Linked DNA regions of Homo sapiens: region 2 is linked to region 1. Evidence: fine-mapped expression QTL. A gene starts in region 1. The other region holds a variant in brackets. All regions are shown on one strand. Distances are between the middles of the regions.

Region 1 (5,378 bases):
CTGAAGTTGTTCAAAGGGACATTCGTCTCTTGGCCAAATGCTGAAGAGAGAGAGGGAGGTGTCTTTAACTATTCTGCACCCTGGAGGCTACCAAAGTAAAATAAAAGATCTTTGTCTTTATCTTAGTCTTGTTAAGACAGGAAGAGTATTAAAGAGATATGATCAAAATACATTTGGTATGCCTAGAATTAATACAATAGGTCTCAAACACATCTAGGAAGCCCAAGTCCAAATAGAATTTTGGCTGATTCTGGATGGCCGCAATGGGTTGTTTCAGGGAAGCTTTCGGGGGCACTGTAGGCATTTATTATTAACTACGGTGAGCAATGTATTGCATGGGTCCAGCCTCAGCTGGGAGCCCATTCTCTCTCTTTTTTTTTTTTTTTTTTTGAGACGGAGTCTCGCTCTGTCACCCAGGCTGGAGTGTGGTGGCACGATCTCCACTCACTGCAACCTCCACCTCCTGGGTTCAAGCAATTCTCCTGCCTCAGCCTCCTGAGTAGCTGGGATTACAGGTGCCCGCCACCACACCCGGCTAATTTTTGTATGTTTAGTAGAGACGGGGTTTTACCATGTTGGCCAGGCTGGTCTTGAACTCCTGACCTCAGGTGATCCACCTGCTTCAGCCTCCCAAAGTGCTGGGATTACAGGCGTGAACCACCGCACCCAGCTGGGTACCCATTCTCTAGGCTCCCATAGGCTATCTAACATAATACCCAGCACAATACACTAAAGTTACTCGTGTCTATCTCCTCCTGTAGTCTACTGGCTTTTGGAAGGAGAAGCTTTTTTCCTTCTCCAATTATTAGTGCATGTCTAATGTCTACTGTGTCTCACAGATATCTACTCTGAGAACCAATCTGCTTAAGGTGGTCACTCTCCTCCACCTCCTCCCGTCATTCCCAGGGCACCATATAGTTAAAAGCTGTGATTAAAATCCTGTTATTCAGTATGTATAAACATTTATTGCATACCTACAATGTGTTAGGCAACATGATAGGAAAATTTCATTTTGCAATACATTGCCATGCCAGTCTTAGAGGGGTAAGTGCATTCTAGGAAGGGGAATAAATGTAAAGGCTCAATCCTGTTAAACTCTAGCTGCATCTAAAGTTGCAGCTAGAGTTTAACAATAGTGCAAAACAAAGTTTTGATTCCGTTTTCTAATCTCTACAGTGAGAAAAGAAGAACACGCTTCCTCCTAACTAATGAAGATTAAATGAGTTAGGCAGGGAAGCACTCAGCACAGGGCCCAGCTCTATGTGCAAAATTACTGAGATTCTCACACACTACCTGGACTGACACTGGCTACACGTTATTTGGAGAAACTATATTGACTAACTTCTCTCCTGTCTGAAGCCCATTCTTAACTACAAAAACGTCAGCTCCTGGTCCCTACGCAGGATTCGGTCAGCCTGCATACTTATGTTGCCCGGAATACAACGCATCATATAACCCTGCGAATATAAATTTCTTCATGGAAACAAGATCAACAGCAAGGCTAAAGTCCGAGTTCTAGTTTCTCCACGGGTTTCTGCACGACCTTGGGCGGTCCCTTCTCTTCTCAAACCCTTGTTCCCCTACCGGAGCCCCAGACCCCTGGCGTCCCGCACTCACCGTAGCGGGCCCAGAGCTTGGGCTGCACATCGGAGCATTCGCGGATTAGGATGGGTAGGTCGGGATTCGCCTTCTTCAGCTCCACGTAGCGTTTCTCAATGAAGTCCCTGCGGGGCCGGAGAGAGCGCCGCGCGTGCTGTGGGCGGGGGCTTCCCTCAACTTCAGGGAGGTCGAGGTCGTGACCCTGGCGTCCCGAAGCCCGCCCGCCTCACCACGCCGCGCCTCACCTGACGCCCTGGCTGCCGGGCGAGCGCTGACATAAGTGGATGCGAATCTCACGCAGGCCCAGCTTTGCCCCGACTCCTCGACTTGCTGCGGCCGCCGCCATCCTTGTTAATATCGAAGTCGCCAATTCCAGGTCTTCAGGCCAAGTGCTCCGGTCTGACCAACCGCGGACCCTAAAGCCTAGCCCATAGGCTGCATGAGGCAGGGGCGGGGTAAAGCTTGGCCAATGATATAAAAGTATTGTAGGACCGCTGCGAGGTCAATTTCTTTGCGCTCGGGGTTGGTCGGAGGGAAAAACAGGAAGCGGAAAGGCTGCGAACGCAAAGCAGTGTGGGTTGATTCTGAGGTGCACTGTGGGAAAGAGCTTGTCGCTGCGGTGTTGCTGTTGGAGACTCGATTGTTGGTGACAGCGAAAGAACGATAACAAAATGCCGGAGCGAGATAGTAAGGCTCAGGCCATCCGTTATTTCTTCCCCATGGCACTTGGGGCACTTGGCGCATTATTGTAGCTTCTGAGCTTAAGCCGGGTGTGTGTGTGTGTGTGTGTGTGTGTGTGTGTGTGTGTATGTATGTATGTGTGACGCTTGAGCCCGGAGAAGCCACAGGGTCCTAAGTGAGGCCGACAGCTCCAAACTCCGTCCCCAGTCCTCACTCCTACTCCAAGTGATGATGGGCGGCTTTTGTGCGTGGATCGCTTTCCCCCAGTCCTGTCCCCATACTTAATCCTGGGTTGCGCGTATTTATCTTTTACGTAGTATTTTAGACGTGATCTTCCGGAAGTCTTCTCTGATCCTCCAGCGCAGGATTAGGGTCCTCTGCTTTGTGCTCCCACAGCTTCTTGTAGTTTCCTATTTCAGCACTTATTACATTGTGTTGACACTGTCGCTGTTCTAACTTTTGTTCTGTATTGTTCACTACTATATCTCAAATTTTTGCATAGGATCTGACACGTAAGAGACTGATTAAATTAACGTCAATTTTTTTTGTCAGGTGAGCCGTTCTCCAACCCTTTGGCCCCCGATGGCCACGATGTGGATGATCCTCACTCCTTCCACCAGTGAGTATTTTGTGCTAGGACCATGGAAATGAGTTGGGCAATGAATAGAAAAGTGGTGGTGATGGTGAAAGAATTCTGAATGTCTTGTCATCAAGGATGGTAAAAAATTATACCCGCTGGCCCTTTATCTCTGTGAGCCTTAACTGGATCAGGCCAAGTGCATAAGGGTATTAGAAGGGAAATTCCTGCAGGAAAGGTGTTAAGTTTTTTTTTTTTTTTATACGTGTTGTGTAATTACACATTATATAGGAATTACTTCTTCCAATAGCAAATTAAAACATAGGAAATAAGGGTAAAATCATCTTTTTATTTTTTTTGAGACTGAGTTTCGCTCTTGTTGCTCAGGCTGGAATGCAGTGGTGCGATCTCGGCTCACCACAACCTCCGCCTCCCGGGTTCAAGCAATTCTCCTGCCTCAGCCTTCCGAGTAGCTGGGATTACAGGCATGTTCCACTACGCCCGGCTAATTTTGTATTTTTAGTAGAGATGGGGTTTCTCCATGTTGATCAGGCTGGTCTTGAAATCCCGACTTCAGGTGATCCACCCGCCTCTGCCTCCCAAAGTGGTGGGAGTACAGGCGTGAGCCACCGTGCCTGGCCCCCGATAAAATCATCTTTGATAACATCCCCAATTCCAGTCCATTTCTTTTTTTTTTTCTTTTCTTTTCTTTTCTTTCTTTTTTTTTTTTTTTGAGACGGAGTCTCACTGTTACCCAGGCTGGAGTGCAGTGATGCAATCTTGGCTCACTGCAACCTCTGCCTCCTGAGTTCAAGCGGTTCTCCTGCCTCAGCCTCCCAAGTAGCTGGGACTACAGGCATGTGCCACCATGCACGACTGATTTTTTTTTTTGTATTTTTAGTAGAGACAGGGTTTCACTGTGTTCGTCAGGCTGGTCTTGAACTCCTGGCCTGAAGTGATCCACCCGCCTCAGCCTCCTAAAGTGCTGGCATTACAGGCGTGAGCCACCGTGCCCAGCCTCAGTCCTTTTCTTAGAAGTAACCACAGTTACCTTTTTTGGCATATCTTTTCCTCCCGTTGCCCAGGCTGGAGTTCAATGGCATTATTTCTGCTCACAGCAACCTTTGCCTCCTGGGCTCAAGCAATTCTTCTGCCTCAGTTTCCCCAGTAGCTGGGATTACAGGCATGCCCCACCATGCTTGGCTAATTTTTGTATTAGTAGAGACAGGGTTTCGCTATGTTGGCCAGGCTGGTCTTGAACTCCTGACCTCAAATGATCTGCCCGTCTCGGCGGCCCAAAGTGCTGGGATTACAGGCGTGAGCCACTGCGCCTGGCCCTCCTACTCTTTTTTAAATGCATTTATACACATACATGCATATCTGAGGAAAACACAACATTGCTTTGTGATTTAAAATATTTGAGTTAAATGATATTATGCTGTATATATCATTTTTGCAACTTGCTTCTTTTTAAACCCTGCTCAGTGTTTCTGAGATTATCTTTCAGAGCAGTGACAAGCATTCCCTCCTTGGCTAAACTTTAGTCAGGTTCCCCAAAGAGTCCCATTTTTCAGCAGGACTCATCCGTGGCCTGCTGAGCACAGTTTTAACAAAGAAATCAACCACCGCTCCACCCCCATACCTAACCAAGTTGCTTTTAGTAATTTTCTATAAATTCTCACTTGTCCCTGTTGTATTCGGAATTAAGTTCAGTCTCTCTACTCTATTACAATGGTCTTGACTCTTGTTACAGTAGTCTTCAATAAAGTCTTCCTTGGGGAGAAGAGGAACTTGATTAGATATCAAGTTGGATTGGATATCAAGAGTGGGAAAACTTTCTGTGAACTGACTTAGGATTCCTTTTTAAAACTGAGGTCAGCAGGCCAAGGAAGAGCCCTAGTCAGAAGAGAGCTTTAAAGGAGTCTGACTTTAATTTGATCAAGAGAGGAGTCTTTGTTAGTGTACCAATTAAAATAATCTCTTGTACCATTAGTGCTGTCTTTCCCTCTTTGGGAAACACCATCATAGTTTAGTCAGTCTCCAGCTAATAAACGCTTAGTCTGTTTCAGACTGATTCTTTTCTTTTTTTTATTTTTTTGAGACAGAGTCTTGCTCTTTTTGCCCAGGCTGGAGTGTAATACCTAGATCTCGGCTCACTGCAAACTCCGCCTCCCAGGTTCAAGCGATTTTCCTGCCTCAGCCTCCTGAGTAGCTAGGATTACAGGCGCCCACCACAACGCCCAGCTAATTTTTTTGTATTTTTAGTAGAGATGGGATATCACCATGTTGGCCATGCTGGTCTTGAACTCCTGACCTCGGGTGATCCGCCTGCGTCAGCCTCCCAAAGTGCGGCGATTATAGGTGTGAGCCACTGCACCCGGCCAGACTGATTATTTTCAAGGCTATAACTGAATTAAATTTACAGGCCTTCTTATATACATATGTCAGTAATGGACCAGGCTAAATATAAATAAATGGAGTTGCTGGCTCATAGGATATATATACTTAAATTTTAACAAAT
Region 2 (5,378 bases), 140 kb after region 1:
TTTTTGTCTTGCTAGGCTGCCTATTTCCTGGTCCTTTGTCTAGAGAAAGCATGCTTTTTTTTTTGAGCTTTTTGCATCAGTACCCAATAATGTTTCTGGTTGTTGGCTTCTTCTGGTCCAAGTCTGGAATAGATAAGGCAAAAACCCAGAGATTTCACCACTGTGTCAGTCTTCAAAATTTATAACACTTTAAAGTATTTTGCACTTCCAAATGTTGACAATGTTCTCTAAATCTGCTAACCTTTAGAATGTTTCCAAGTTTAAAGTTTGCTTCACTTTTAGACTAAGAGAATATTCATGTATCTTATGTTGCTCTATCTTTTGTAATAAAGTAATTACTACATTGAACTGTTAAAATATATAAACTGCTTGTTAAAAATAAAATAGCTCCATGTTTTGTCTATATCTTAATTATCAAGTAAACAAGGATTTAGGCTTTCTGATTATGAAGACATACTGGATTAAATAATCCTTATTCACATTAATGTCCTTAACTATTCTTAGTACTTAAAATATAAACATTATGGCCATTCCTTTAAAAAAAAACTAGTGATAGCTTATTCTGATCACATTTCTTAGTCAAACTAAGATGTAGCTATGGGATTCTGATTATGAATTGGACTGAAATTGAAAGAGAGGTTTATTAATAGGTAGGTTATTCTCAAATTATTTTTTAAATATATCTTTGCATAAGATTTACATTTTTCTTTTGACTATGGATTATATAAAGATTCTCAGTACGTGTCTCTGATATTGCGATTCAATATCCATATGATTTTTGTTGTAATATGACAATGTTTGGTCTTGATAAGAAAAAAGCATGGATGAAAATTTAACATAGGAATAAAAGATCTAGTGGACACCGATTCAATTAGGAATACTGAGTTTTGGAAGTCAGAGTTATAAGTTCAATACTTAGGTCATTATGTTATATAACAACAAGGGAAAATGTCACAAATATCTTTATTCTAACAGTTAAAGTATCAGAAAATGATGAAGTTGTTCATACCACATTAAAGGAATTTTACATGTGTTCAGAAATTTTCCAAAAATGTCATCTGTAAGTACCTGATAACTATATATACATGTGCATATGTACGTGTGTGTGTATAATATCATTTAAAAAAAAACACCCAAGCTATCCTAGAATAAGGTGAATCATATCAGTCAAACTACCTTATTTTAAAACTTTGACATTCAGTTGCAAATATTTAATAATAAAAATATATAAGCTGATAAATCGTTTTAAATAAAATGATGTAAGGAGAGGTTAAGTAGATCTTAAAGTTTCTAATTCAATTGTAATATGTTTGTAATCATTACTAAAAGAAAATACTGGATTACACACTCTCCAATGAGATTTGAAATGTTCTGGGTCTTAAAAGGACATAAAATTGAAAATGATTGCATTTAACAAATTGCAGACGGATATAGATTGCATTTTGAAAATCAACGAATGGATCTAAAATTTACATTGGCCACATGATGTCGCTGTACACCACAAAGTCTTGTCAATAGAAGGGAGCTACTGATCACTAAAAGTGAAGGAGGAAGCTCCATTTTGTCACCGCCTGAGAGAAGACAGAAACGGTAAAGAGATAAATGATTGGAAATATTAGATAAAATGGCATGATTTTGAAGTAAGAGGAGAGCATAAGAAAGGTGTAGTCCTTTTGCAATGGTGTTTTCTAGGAGAGGGGGCCTGGGAGCCCGGGATCTGCTTCTTTGGCTTCTGCTCCTCGCAGCCTGGGAGGTGGGGAGCGGCCAGCTCCACTACTCGATCCCGGAGGAAGCCAAACACGGCACCTTCGTTGGCCGCGTTGCTCAGGACCTGGGACTGGAGCTGGCGGAGCTGGTGCCTCGCCTGTTCCGGGTGGCGTCCAAAACACACAGGGACCTTCTGGAGGTAAATCTGCAGAATGGCATTTTGTTTGTGAATTCTCGGATCGATCGCGAGGAGCTGTGCCAGTGGAGCGCGGAGTGCAGCATCCACCTGGAGTTGATCGCCGACAGGCCGCTGCAGGTTTTCCATGTGGAGGTGAAGGTGAAAGACATTAACGATAATCCACCCGTCTTCAGGGGCAGAGAACAAATAATATTTATTCCTGAATCTAGACTCCTGAATTCGCGTTTTCCGATAGAAGGAGCTGCTGATGCAGACATTGGTGCTAACGCTCTTCTAACGTACACGCTCAGCCCGAGTGATTATTTCTCTTTGGATGTAGAGGCAAGTGATGAACTGAGTAAATCTCTTTGGCTTGAATTGAGAAAATATTTGGATAGAGAAGAAACACCAGAACTTCACTTATTACTGACTGCCACTGATGGGGGCAAACCGGAGCTGCAAGGTACAGTTGAGCTGCTGATCACCGTCCTCGACGTTAATGATAACGCCCCACTGTTTGACCAGGCCGTATACAGAGTCCACTTGTTAGAGACTACAGCAAATGGAACATTAGTGACCACATTAAATGCCTCTGATGCTGACGAAGGTGTAAATGGTGAAGTCGTCTTTTCCTTTGACAGTGGTATTTCTCGTGACATTCAAGAAAAATTCAAAGTTGATTCCAGCTCAGGAGAAATTAGGTTAATTGATAAACTGGATTATGAAGAAACAAAATCCTACGAAATTCAAGTAAAGGCAGTTGATAAAGGAAGTCCTCCGATGTCAAATCACTGTAAGGTTTTGGTGAAAGTGCTGGATGTAAATGATAATGCTCCAGAACTGGCGGTCACTTCATTGTATTTGCCTATCAGAGAGGACGCTCCACTCAGCACCGTCATCGCCCTCATCACCGTGTCTGACCGTGACTCAGGTGCCAACGGGCAGGTGACTTGCTCCTTAATGCCCCACGTCCCCTTCAAGCTGGTGTCCACCTTCAAGAATTACTACTCGTTGGTGTTGGACAGCGCCCTGGATCGCGAGAGCCTGTCGGTCTATGAGCTGGTGGTGACCGCGCGGGACGGGGGCTCGCCTTCGCTGTGGGCCACGGCCAGGGTGTCCGTGGAGGTGGCCGACGTG[A/C]ATGACAACGCGCCTGCGTTCGCGCAGCCCGAGTACACAGTATTCGTGAAGGAGAACAACCCGCCGGGCTGCCACATCTTCACGGTGTCTGCGCGGGACGCGGACGCGCAGGAGAACGCGCTGGTGTCCTATTCGCTGGTGGAACGGCGGGTGGGCGAGCGCGCGCTGTCGAACTACGTGTCAGTGCACGCGGAGAGCGGCAAGGTGTACGCACTGCAGCCCCTGGACCACGAGGAGCTGGAGCTGCTGCAGTTCCAGGTGAGCGCGCGGGATGCGGGCGTGCCGCCTCTGGGCAGCAACGTGACGCTGCAGGTGTTCGTGCTGGACGAGAACGACAACGCGCCGGCGCTGCTGGCGCCTCGAGTGGGTGGCACTATTGGTGCAGTCAGTGAGCTGGTGCCGCGATTGGTGGGTGCGGGTCATGTGGTGGCGAAGGTGCGCGCAGTGGACGCCGACTCGGGCTACAACGCGTGGCTGTCCTATGAACTGCAGCCGGCAGCAGGCGGCGCGCGCATCCCGTTCCGCGTGGGGCTGTACACGGGCGAGATCAGCACGACTCGTGTCCTGGACGAGGCTGACTTGTCGCGCTACCGCCTTCTGGTGCTAGTGAAGGATCACGGTGAGCCGGCGCTGACAGCCACGGCCACTGTGCTTGTATCTCTGGTGGAGAGCGGCCAGGCGCCAAAGGCGTCTTCGCGGGCGTCGGTGGGTGTCGCGGGCCCAGAGGCGGCGCTGGTGGATGTCAACGTGTACCTGATCATCGCCATCTGCGCGGTGTCCAGCCTGCTGGTGCTCACACTGCTGCTGTACACGGCGCTGCGGTGCTCAGTGCCGCCCACTGAGGGTGCGTATGTGCCGGGCAAGCCCACTCTGGTGTGCTCCAGCGCGTTGGGGAGCTGGTCGAACTCACAGCAGAGGCGGCAGAGGGTGTGCTCTAGCGAGGGCCCACCCAAGACCGACCTCATGGCCTTCAGCCCAGGCCTATCTCCAAGTCTTAACACGTCAGAAAGAAATGAACAACCAGAAGCAAATTTGGATCTTTCTGGTAATGTAAGTCCAACTTTCGAGTTTTGGCTTTAAATATTTTTCATATTTAACTTGTCTAATCATCTTTTCAAATATCACTTTAAAAAATGTCTTCAAGGTGTTCACTAACGTTGAAATAAATCATACCATTGAATGTAGATATCCTATTAATGGCAGTTTTGTCTTGAATGGAACTAGAAAGCAAAGAAAAATGTAGGGACAAATTGTCGTATTTCTTGATTTAAATGGCAGGTTAAAAAAGCTACAATACAAGGTACAATAAAAGGTAATGTTGGTCATATTTAACACAATATCTCAATGTAGTAAAATAACAGTGACATATTCGGGGTAACTTATTATGTTATCTTTTCTGGTGAAATGTCAAGCCCCGGACAAACAATTCTTGACAAAGTTACAGAAATCATCTGCCTTCCCTTTACGTGGCTAAGTTTCAAAGTGAACAATAAACTGAAGTTTTAAGCAAACGTAATTTAAAATACATTTATTGGCTGGGGGCGGTGGCTTATGCCTGTAATCCCAAAACTTTGGGAGGCCGAGGAGGGCGTATCACCTGAGATCAGGAGTTTGAGACTAGCCTGGACAACATGGTGAAACCCCGTCTCAACTAAAAATACAAAAACATTGGCCAGGCCTGGTGGTGGGCGCCTGTAATCCCAGCTAATGGGGAGGCTGAGGCAGGAGAATCGCTTGAACCCGGGAGGCAGAGGTTGTAGTGAACCGAAGTCGCACCATTGCACTCTAACCTGGGCGACAGAGTGAGACTCTGTCAAAACAAAAACAAAAACAAACCAAAACCGACCAACCAAACAAACAAAAAACACCATTTATTGGGCGATTTGTTTAATTTCTTTATGAAAACATACAACCACGACTTCATTGTCATTGTGAACAATTTCCTGATGCCATTAACCTTGAATTCCCCTGGGTCTAGAAGGCTTAGCATTGCATGTATTTGCTATTTCGGGGATCCAGTTAGGAAACACTTATTAAGCACCTCCCATTCCTCCCATTCACTCACAAATGTTCTAAAACCCTTTACTTTTTTAGCTCATTCGATCCTTCCAACGATTTTATGAAGTGAAGACTTTCGTCACATTTTGTGGATAAAGGTGCTGAGGCTCGCAAAACCTAAGTTCAGTATTATTACTAAGTTTTCTTCAAATTTCCCGAGGATATCCAAAAACTTGCTTGCTGTTAATACAGTTCTTTACCTTTCCTAAAATGTTTAAGGTGGCTTACAGTGGAAGAAATTTGTGAAAGCAAATTATTAAAAAATCTGCTTAAGGTCAAAGTAAAAGATCAAGAGAAA

Evidence for each region. PIP is the estimated chance that this variant, and not a neighbour inherited with it, causes the effect.
Region 2: its variant is fine-mapped to the expression of IK in whole blood (INTERVAL, PIP above 0.99).

The regions. Positions count from the first base shown.
Region 1 is chr5:140,645,639-140,651,016 of GRCh38, forward strand. It overlaps IK (IK cytokine), which reads left to right and starts at 2,191. Exons shown (of 20, transcript NM_006083.4): 1 at 2,191-2,286; 2 at 2,833-2,899. The coding sequence starts at 2,271. NDUFA2 (NADH:ubiquinone oxidoreductase subunit A2) reads right to left here and starts at 1,992. Exons shown (of 3, transcript NM_002488.5): 1 at 1,845-1,992; 2 at 1,618-1,724; 3 at 1-40. The coding sequence starts at 1,945. It overlaps MIR3655 (microRNA 3655), which reads left to right and starts at 2,206; the gene lies at 2,206-2,288. It also overlaps a transcript of TMCO6 not described here. RefSeq lists enhancers at 1,570-1,989, 1,730-2,265.
Region 2 is chr5:140,784,613-140,789,990 of GRCh38, forward strand. PCDHA1 (protocadherin alpha 1) reads left to right here and starts at 1,528. Exons shown (of 4, transcript NM_018900.4): 1 at 1,528-4,072. The coding sequence starts at 1,679. It also overlaps PCDHA@. The variant A/C (reference allele first, on the strand shown) is at 3,023.